Regions from separate parts of the Homo sapiens genome. Here all the other regions are linked to region 2. The links come from fine-mapping of genetic effects on gene expression. A gene starts in region 2. Each other region holds a variant in brackets. All regions are shown on one strand. Distances are from middle to middle.

What was found. PIP is the estimated chance that this variant, and not a neighbour inherited with it, causes the effect. A credible set is the group of variants that fine-mapping cannot tell apart.
Region 1: its variant is the best candidate, but not a certain one, in a credible set for the expression of C3orf62 in monocytes after R848 (Quach 2016, PIP 0.77).
Region 3: its variant is the best candidate, but not a certain one, in a credible set for the expression of C3orf62 in whole blood (TOPMed, PIP 0.89).

The regions. Positions count from the first base shown.
Region 1 is chr3:49,344,983-49,347,741 of GRCh38, forward strand. No RefSeq gene overlaps it. Among named protein-coding and RNA genes, the nearest start is that of USP4, 6.3 kb to the left of the region's middle. RefSeq lists enhancers at 433-552, 643-732. The variant A/G (reference allele first, on the strand shown) is at 1,227.
Region 2 is chr3:49,276,088-49,278,846 of GRCh38, forward strand. It overlaps C3orf62 (chromosome 3 open reading frame 62), which reads right to left and starts at 1,145. Exons shown (of 3, transcript NM_198562.3): 1 at 340-1,145. The coding sequence starts at 785. It overlaps USP4 (ubiquitin specific peptidase 4), which reads right to left. Exons shown (of 22, transcript NM_003363.4): 21 at 2,727-2,759; 22 at 1,057-2,364. The coding sequence ends at 2,206. RefSeq lists an enhancer at 759-828 and a silencer at 969-1,168.
Region 3 is chr3:48,975,693-48,978,451 of GRCh38, forward strand. All of the region lies in intron 11 of ARIH2 (ariadne RBR E3 ubiquitin protein ligase 2), which reads left to right. Among named protein-coding and RNA genes, the nearest start is that of P4HTM, 13 kb to the right of the region's middle. The variant A/G (reference allele first, on the strand shown) is at 1,556.

The sequences.
Region 1 (2,759 bases), 69 kb after region 2:
CAAGAGTGAAACTTCATCTCAAAAAAAGGAAAAAAAAATTTAAAAATTTAAAATAAAACAATTAGCCTGGCATGGTGACGTGCACCTGTAATCCCAGCTATTAAGTAGGCCAAGGTGGGAGGATCTTTTTAGCCCAGGAGTTTGAAGTTGCAGAGAGCTGTGATCCTATGATCGTGCCACTGCACTCCAGCCTGGGTGACAGAGCAAGATCCTGTCTCAAAAATAAAACAAAAAAGAGAACTGGAAACAATGAACATCTGCCTGCGTGTTCCTGTTGTGGTAGTGACCTAGGGACTTGGGAGGAAATGACAAGGGTGACTGATTCAGCTCAGAGACATCTTGGCACCAGAGCTGTGTTCTATGTTGAGCCACTTTATCCTAGAGAGAACCATAGGCCCGGTAGGACACCAAGATCCCAGAAGTGGACAATCCATCCATTACCAGAGGACCTTGGGCCACAAGAACAGAAGAGAAACCAGGAAGGGAGCTAGAAGAAAACCTGGCTTATTGGTCACATACTAGTTGATCTTGGACTGTGATGTCTAATTAAAGATTCATAATGTTGGCCGGGCGCGGTGGCTTACGCTTGTAATCCCAGCACTTTGGAAGGCCGAGAAGGGCGGATCACGAGGTCAGGAGATCGAGATCATCCTGGCTAACACAGTGAAACCCCGTCTCTACTAAAAATACAAAAAATTAGCCGGGCGTGGTGGTGGGTGCCTGTAGTCCCAGCTACTCAGGAGGCTGAGGCAGGAGAATGGCATGAACCCGGGAGGCGGAGCTGGCACTGAGCCAAGATTGCGCCACTGCACTCCAGCCTGGGTGACAGAGCGAGACCCTATCTCAAAAAAAAAAAAAAAAAAAAAGATTCATAATGTCAGGCCGGGCACGGTGGCTCACACCTGTAATCCCAGTACTTTGGGAGGCCGAGGCAGGTGGTTCACCTGAGGTCAGGAGTTTGAGACCAGCTTGACCAACATGGTGAAACCCCATCTCTATTGAAAATACAGAATTATCTGGGCATGGTAGTGCATTCCTGTAGCCCCACCTACTTGGGAGGCTGAGGCAAGAGAATAGTTTGAACCCAGGAGGCGGAGGTTGCAGTGAGCCAAGATTGCACCACTGCACTCCAGCCTGGGCAACAAGAGCGAAACTCCGTCTCAAAAAAAAAGATTAATAATGTCTGGGTGTGTGAACTTTATGCTTTTTTTTTTTTTTTTTTTTTG[A/G]AACAAGGTCTTAGTCTGTCACCCAGCCTGGAATGCAGTGGCGCAATCTCCGCTCACTGCCACCTCCGCCTCCTGGGTTCAAGGGATTCTCCTGCCTCAGCCTCCCTAGTAGCTGGGATTACAGGCACCGGCCACCACGCCCAGGTGATTTTTGTATTTTTAGTAGAAACGGGGTTTCACCATGTTGGCCAGGCTGTTCCTGAACTCCTGACCTCAGGTGATCCACCCGCCTCGGCCTCCCAAAGTGCTTGGATTACAGGCTTGAACTACCACGCCTGGCCTTTAAGCTTTATTTTATTCCAAATCATAAGGTTTTTGTCTTAGCTGCTACCACAGTTTTCTTTACACCTGATAGGACTTGGCTCTCCCAAGTTATTCTTGGTCCACACTTGGCCAGCACTAACAGAGCACACGTGGCAGTATTCACAAATATTAGACATATTTTAATTGGAGGTGGCAACAGGGGAGAAATATTTTTGGTTCCTTCTCACCTGTGCCTCCTTAACCTGCCCAGGGGACTGTGAAAAGAAAAAGATTCTAGAAGCACACTTTAGAAGAATTAAATGTCTTCTCAGTGATTTCTAACCTCTGTTATATAAGGATTAGGTTCTTGCAGAAGATAATAGAGGCAAAAAACTGAACAAGTCTCACAGAGAGGAAGTGGGATCACTTTTTTTATATGGAGGAGTTGTGCCAATGGACAGATTCCATTCTGGTTATGCCACTTGTGTTGATGGCCAGCCCTCTTCGGGCAGAGGGTGTGGCAGCCTGGGCCCAGGTGCCGCCAGTGTCTTGTCTTCCTCCTGTAATTCTATTACCATCACAGTCTTAACCATGAACCAGTATTTAACGTTAATTTGCGTGTATCCTTTGCCCTTTCCACAGTGCGAATTCTCAGTAGGCATTTCTTGCATAAATGAAAGAAAGAATGATCCGGCTATTAGTCATTTCTTCACTGGACTAATAGTACTTGAGTATTATGTGCTCATGGTCCCTACCCTCCAGGGTTCACAGTGTGGTTAGGGATGAAGGATGGTTACATATGTAATACAGTATTGTATGTTGTGTGGTAAAAGTGTCACAGGGGCCGGGTGCAGTGGCTCACGCCTGGAATCCCAGCACTTTGGGAGGCTGAGGTGGGCAGATCACGAGGTTAGGAGATCAAGACCGTCCTGGCTAACACCGTGAAACCCTATCTCTACTAAAAATACAAAAAAATTAGCCCGGTGTGGTGGTGGACACCTGTAGTCCCAGCTACTTGGGAGGCTGAGGCAGGAGAATGGTGTGAACCCGGGAGGCAGAGCTTGCAGTGAGCCGAGATCGAGCCACTGCACTCCAGCCTGGGCAACAGAGCAAAACTCTGCCTCAAAAAAAAAAAAGTGTCACAAGAACATGAAGGGTCATGCTTGCAGATACTTCCCTGGGAAGGAAACTTAAGCAACTAGTGTAGAAAGCAAAGGCATACTTAATATTCCTTTTGGCCTTTGGGGGTATATGATGACATCCACAAAGGATGCTCAGGAGACCAGGACT
Region 2 (2,759 bases):
AATTAAGACTTTTGTTTCTGCAACTTAAAAAATAAGGTTATTTTTAAAACCCGGTTATTTTACATCCACTACCCCTTTGGGTACTGCAAAGTGGTTTCCATGACTGGTTTTTGACATCAACGATTGACAACTAGCCCCTCAACTGGAACATATACACAAAATATAACTGTTTCCTAGGCCAGATTCTGAAGAATGTCTGTCAACTCCCCAAATGCAGTCACAGAGCTGCCAAGAGGAGGCAAGAGCACTGTCATGAACTAAATCTAGGATCTTCAACAACTTTTTCAGAAACAAGAATCCCCTTAATTGTAGCTGTTAAACCATCAAAATTAGAATCACCTTAAATTTTCTTTTCTCCAGTTTTCCCCCTCTCCTGCAGTTCTCCAAGACTCTCTTTCAGGTGCCAAAATGGAGGAATGCATCAATACATTTTCCTTGCTGGTTAGAGGTTTTCTCTCGGGGCACAGAGCATGTGGTTTTGCATTTACCGGGGCATGGTTTGTTGCAAAGGCAGGGTTCTCATTCTCAGGAGCACATGGGACAGCAGCAAAAGGAGCAGCAGAAGAGCAGGCTGCCAGAGGATGTCTTCTGCAGAGGAGCCTGTGCACGGGCAGCGAGAAGGAGAGCGGCGCGGCGCTCAGTTCCAGCCTCTGCTGGCCTGTGCACTCCTGGGAATAACTAACTCCTTCAAAGGCCCGGTCAATGGCTGCAGTCAGTTCCTTTCTGCATCTTCTTAGTTTTTCAGACATTTCTCCTAAAAGCGACCATGTCTTTATGTAATGCATTGGAAATGCACAGGACAACACAATAATGTTACAAATGAGGCTGCAAACTACCCCTGAATGGCCACGATTTCCTGGAGCTTGGCCCTGGCTATAGCAGGACCCACAACCCTCGGGCTTTCCTCCTGGAGTAGGCGGTTCTCGGCTCTCGCGGAGGAACCCGCCATCTGCCAGAAGCCCCAAAGACGCCCCGCCCCACTTCCCACAGCTTCCTGGCCCGCCCCGCCGCTGCCTCCCGCCCCACCGCGGCTCCCAGGCCGCTGGCCCTACCGGCACCCCCCCTTTGGCGAGTCGGCAGCCACGTCCTTGTCCTCACCCGCAGCGCAGTGACGCCGACCCATCCAACGGTCATCGCATGCGCGTGCCCCGCGCAGGCCCCAAACCCCCACGGATTAGGTTGAAGGTCAGACAAAAAATCCCGGACCCATACGTCCGGTTCCTTAAGGCCTTGCCCACACGCAGCGGCTGGCCCCGCGGTGGGAGTGGGGACGGGGCTTTCGAATGGGGGCCCCGGGAAGAGTCTTGGCAGGGATGAGGAAAGAACCCGTTCTAGAAAGCATCTGGGTAACACCAAAATGTATTACTACCCTAAATCGCCATGAACTGGAGCCCTTTCCCGGCTAACTCCCACAAAGATTTCTGTTCTCAAGCCAACATGGAAACAACTAGACGGGACACAGCACCGGGCAGTTTTATGTACTGACTTCCTTTAAGCGTTATCTAATAAAAAGTGTGTTATCTAATAAAAGTTCCACACAGTATTTAACCGTCTTAATTCATCTAGGGTAGCAGGGGATATAACAGAACTGCTGGGTTCCACAGGAGGTTGAGGGGCCAGGATCCCCAACACTAGATATCTTCCTTAGCGGGGAGAAAGCTGGAAATTACAAGATGACTCAACGGAGAAATGGGCTTCAGTGGGTAACTTTCAGAAAATTATAAACCCATATCAGTGCACATAGCGAGGGAAAGGGGAGTTTACTTGAGGTTTGGGTTACTGTGAGCAGACTACTTGGGGTGACTAGTATTGGCATCAGAACCAGAAATCCAGGCGCTCAGGGCAGCCCTGCAGGTGGGGTGGGTCTCCAGGCTGCTCCATACTCAGCGCCTGTGTTCCTCTCCATTCTTCGGGATCCATCAGACATACTCCATTGAGTACCCCCATCCCACCCCCTTTTCAGCTTCACAGGTTTCACAGAAATTTCTCACCACCTGTTTAAAAATAAAAATAATTCAGCCTCTTGACATAGCTTCTTCTAGGTAAACGGTCTTCTTTTTTTTTTTTTGTTTCCTTCTGCTCATAAAAGAAGGGTATTTCCTTGTCTGGTTTTTAGACAGAACACTAGCAGTCTGCAGAGTGTCAAAGATGTTCTCCTGGGGGATTACACTGGCGCTACAGGGTGGCAGGATCGTGGAGTCAGCATTAGTTGGTGTCCATGCTGCAAGCCTCATCATCCCCAAAGCCCTGCTGAGAGCTGCTTGGTCGTGTCCCTCCATCAGAGGAACCAGAACTGCTAAGTGAAGGTGTCTTATAAAATTCATCATCTCGACGTTGGTAAAATAGCACATAAGCTGCTTTAGTCTGAAATACAAGAGGGGGAAAGACCATTCAGTGCTTGGAAAAATCACCCATTTTCCCCAGCTTTTCTCTAGCTGTCCAAAACCCTCAAGGATCTGCCATATCCACACAGAGGAGACCCTTCCACCTGAGGATGGCTGCCCCTGCCAGGCAGCAGGAAATGGAAGGAGCCTTGTGCAGAGAACTCTGAGGAGAGCTGAGCTTCTCATTTATGAAGGTCCCTGAAGGAATGCCAGCCAGCTCTGTCACACCTAGCTCCCACTATCACATCAGGATGATGAAATAACCAACTAGCCTGATAGAGGCTCTTCCCAGCTTTAATCCATAACGACATGAGGAAGAACCACATATCATGGCCTACTCACCACTATCTGATCCTCAGAGGCCAGGGACACGTT
Region 3 (2,759 bases), 300 kb before region 2:
TAGCTGGGATTACAGGCATCTTCCACCACGTCTGGCTAATTTCTGTATTTTTAGTAGAGATGGGGGTTTGCCATGTTCGAGGCTGGTCTCGAACTCCTGACCTCAGGTGATCTCCCTACCTTGGCCTCCCAAAGTGCTGGGATTACAGGAGTGAGCCACTGTGCCCGACCGAGAATTTTGCTTTGTAAGGGCCTATGCAAATGCTATTTCCAGGAACCCTCTTTTCTTTATTTTTTGAGACAGAGTCTCAGTCTGTCGCCCAGGCTGGAGTGCAGTGGTGTGATCTTGGCTGACTGCAACCTCCACCTCCTGGGTTTAAGCAGTTCTCCCACTTCAGCCTCCTGAGTAGCTGGGATTACAGGCACTCACCACCACACCTGGCTACTTTTTTATATTTTTAGTAGAGACGGGGTCTAACCATGTTAGCCAGGCTGGTGTCCAACTCTTGACCTCAGGTGATCCGCCTACCTTGGCCTCTTAAAGTGCTGGGATTATAGGCATGAGCCACCGAGCCTGTACTTTTTTTTTTTTTTTTCCAAAGATGGAGTTCTGCTCTTGTCGCTCAGGCTGGAATGCAATGGTGTGATCTTGGCTCAATGCAACATCTACCTCCTGGGTTCAAGCGATTCTCACTCCGCCTCCCCAGTAGCTGCTATTACAGGCGCCCACCACCACACCTGGATAATTTTTATATTCTTAGTATAGATGCGGTTTCACCATGTTGGCCAGGCTGGTCTCGAACTTCTGACCCCAGGCAATCCGCCTGCCTCGACCTCCCAAAGTGCTGGGATTACAGGTGTGAGCCACCGCTCCCGGCCCCAGGAGCCCTCTCAATCAGAGTGGTCATGCCAGGATCTTAGACAGCAACATTGACTCTGCAGTGCCAAACGAAGATAGGCCATGGGTAGTGGCATATTTCTTCTGTGGGGCCACATTCTTTCGCTCTCTTTTTCTTTGTATATATCAGAGAGAGAAGTGTATCATACACTTAGAACAATGCAGAAGACACAGAGTTTAAAGAATAATGACAAACATCCCAGCACCCACCACATTCCTAGTGCCTAAGAAGCCCCCTGGGTGTCCATATCCCTTGACACCCAGAGTTCACTGCCATCTCACGAGAATCACTTGAACCCCGGAGGTGGAGGTCACAGTGAGCCGAGATTGTGCCACTGAACTCCAGCCTGGGCGATAGAGCGAGACTCTGTCTCAAAAAAAAAAAAACTGGCTGGGCGCGGTGGCTCACGCCTGTAATCCCAGCACTTTGGGAGGCCGAGGTGGGCGGATCATGAGGTCAGGAGATCGAGACCATCCTGGCTAACATGGTGAAACCCCATCTCTACTAAAAAAAAATACAAAATTAGCCAGGCGCAATGGCGCACTCCTGTAGTCCCAGCTATTCGGGAGGCTGAGGCAGGAGAATCGCTTGAACCAGGGAGGTGTAGGTTGCAGTGAGCCAGGATCGCACCACTGCACTCCAGCCTGGGCAACAGAGTGAGACTCCGTCTCAAAAACAAACAAACAAACAAAAAACTGCCATCTCTTTCTTTGCTGT[A/G]TGTTTTATACCACCTATATGGGCAACCGTAGGGAATGTGGTTTTTTGTTTTGTTTTGTTTCGTTTTTTGAGATGGAGTCTCACTCTGTCACCCAGGCTGACAGGCTGAGTGCAGTGGTGCGATCTCGGCTCACTGCAACCTCCACCTCCCAGGTTCAAGCAATTATCCTTGCTCGGCCTCCTGAGTAGCTGGAACTGCAGGCACATGCCACCATACCCAGCTAATTTTTGACAGAGTCTCACTCTGTCGCCTGGGCTAGAGTGCAGTGGTGCGATCTCGGCTCACTGCAACCTCCGCCTCCTGGGTTCAAGCGATTCTCCTGCCTCAGCCTCCCAAGTAGCTGAGATTACAGGCGTCCGCCACTATACCCAGCTAATTTTTTGTATTTTTGGTAGAGACGGGGTTTCACCTTGTTGGCCATGCTGGTTGTGAACTCCTGATCTCATGATTAGCCCACCTTGGCCTCCCAAAGTGCTTGGATTACAGGCGTGAGGCACCGTGCCCGGCCTGTATTGTTCTTTAAAATGGTAGCAAGCACACCTAGCTAATTAAGGAGAGGGCATTGTTGCCACTATTAGGTGAAGGCTCCCAGGAGGAGAAAAATTGAACAACCTCTGGGTCTCCGGGTTTTGCTTTGGCTTCCCTAAAATGATTCAAGAGCCTCATTTTTGGGGAAGTCAGTAAGCCAAGTTATCCCTGGAGAGTGAATCCTGGGAAACAGGATTTACCATTGTCAGGGTCTGGAAGAGGCAGAATAGGCCAGATATAAAATCTAATAAGGTATTATTAGAACAATGTGTGTTCTAGACAACCAGGAGGACTTCAGACAAGTTTTGCTTCTCATAGCAGCCTTGACACAGATATAACAAGGCACATAGCCCATGTGCTCATGGAATGCAGAATATCAACAGGCCATTGTTCATCCAACAAAACTGTGGTTGGCTTCTCTCCATTAGACTGCAGTAATTCTTTGAGCATCTAACAATAATTTTTTGAACATATAGGGGATTTTTTTTTTTTTTTTTGAGACACAGTCTCGCTCTGTCACCTAGGCTGGAGTGCAGTGGTGTAATCTCGGCTCACAACCTCCGCCCTACAGGTTCAACCAGTTCTCGTGCTTCAGCCTCCCAAGTAGCTACTGGCATGTGCCACCACACCTGGCTAATTTGTGTATGTGTGTGTGTGTGTGTGTGTGTGTGTGTG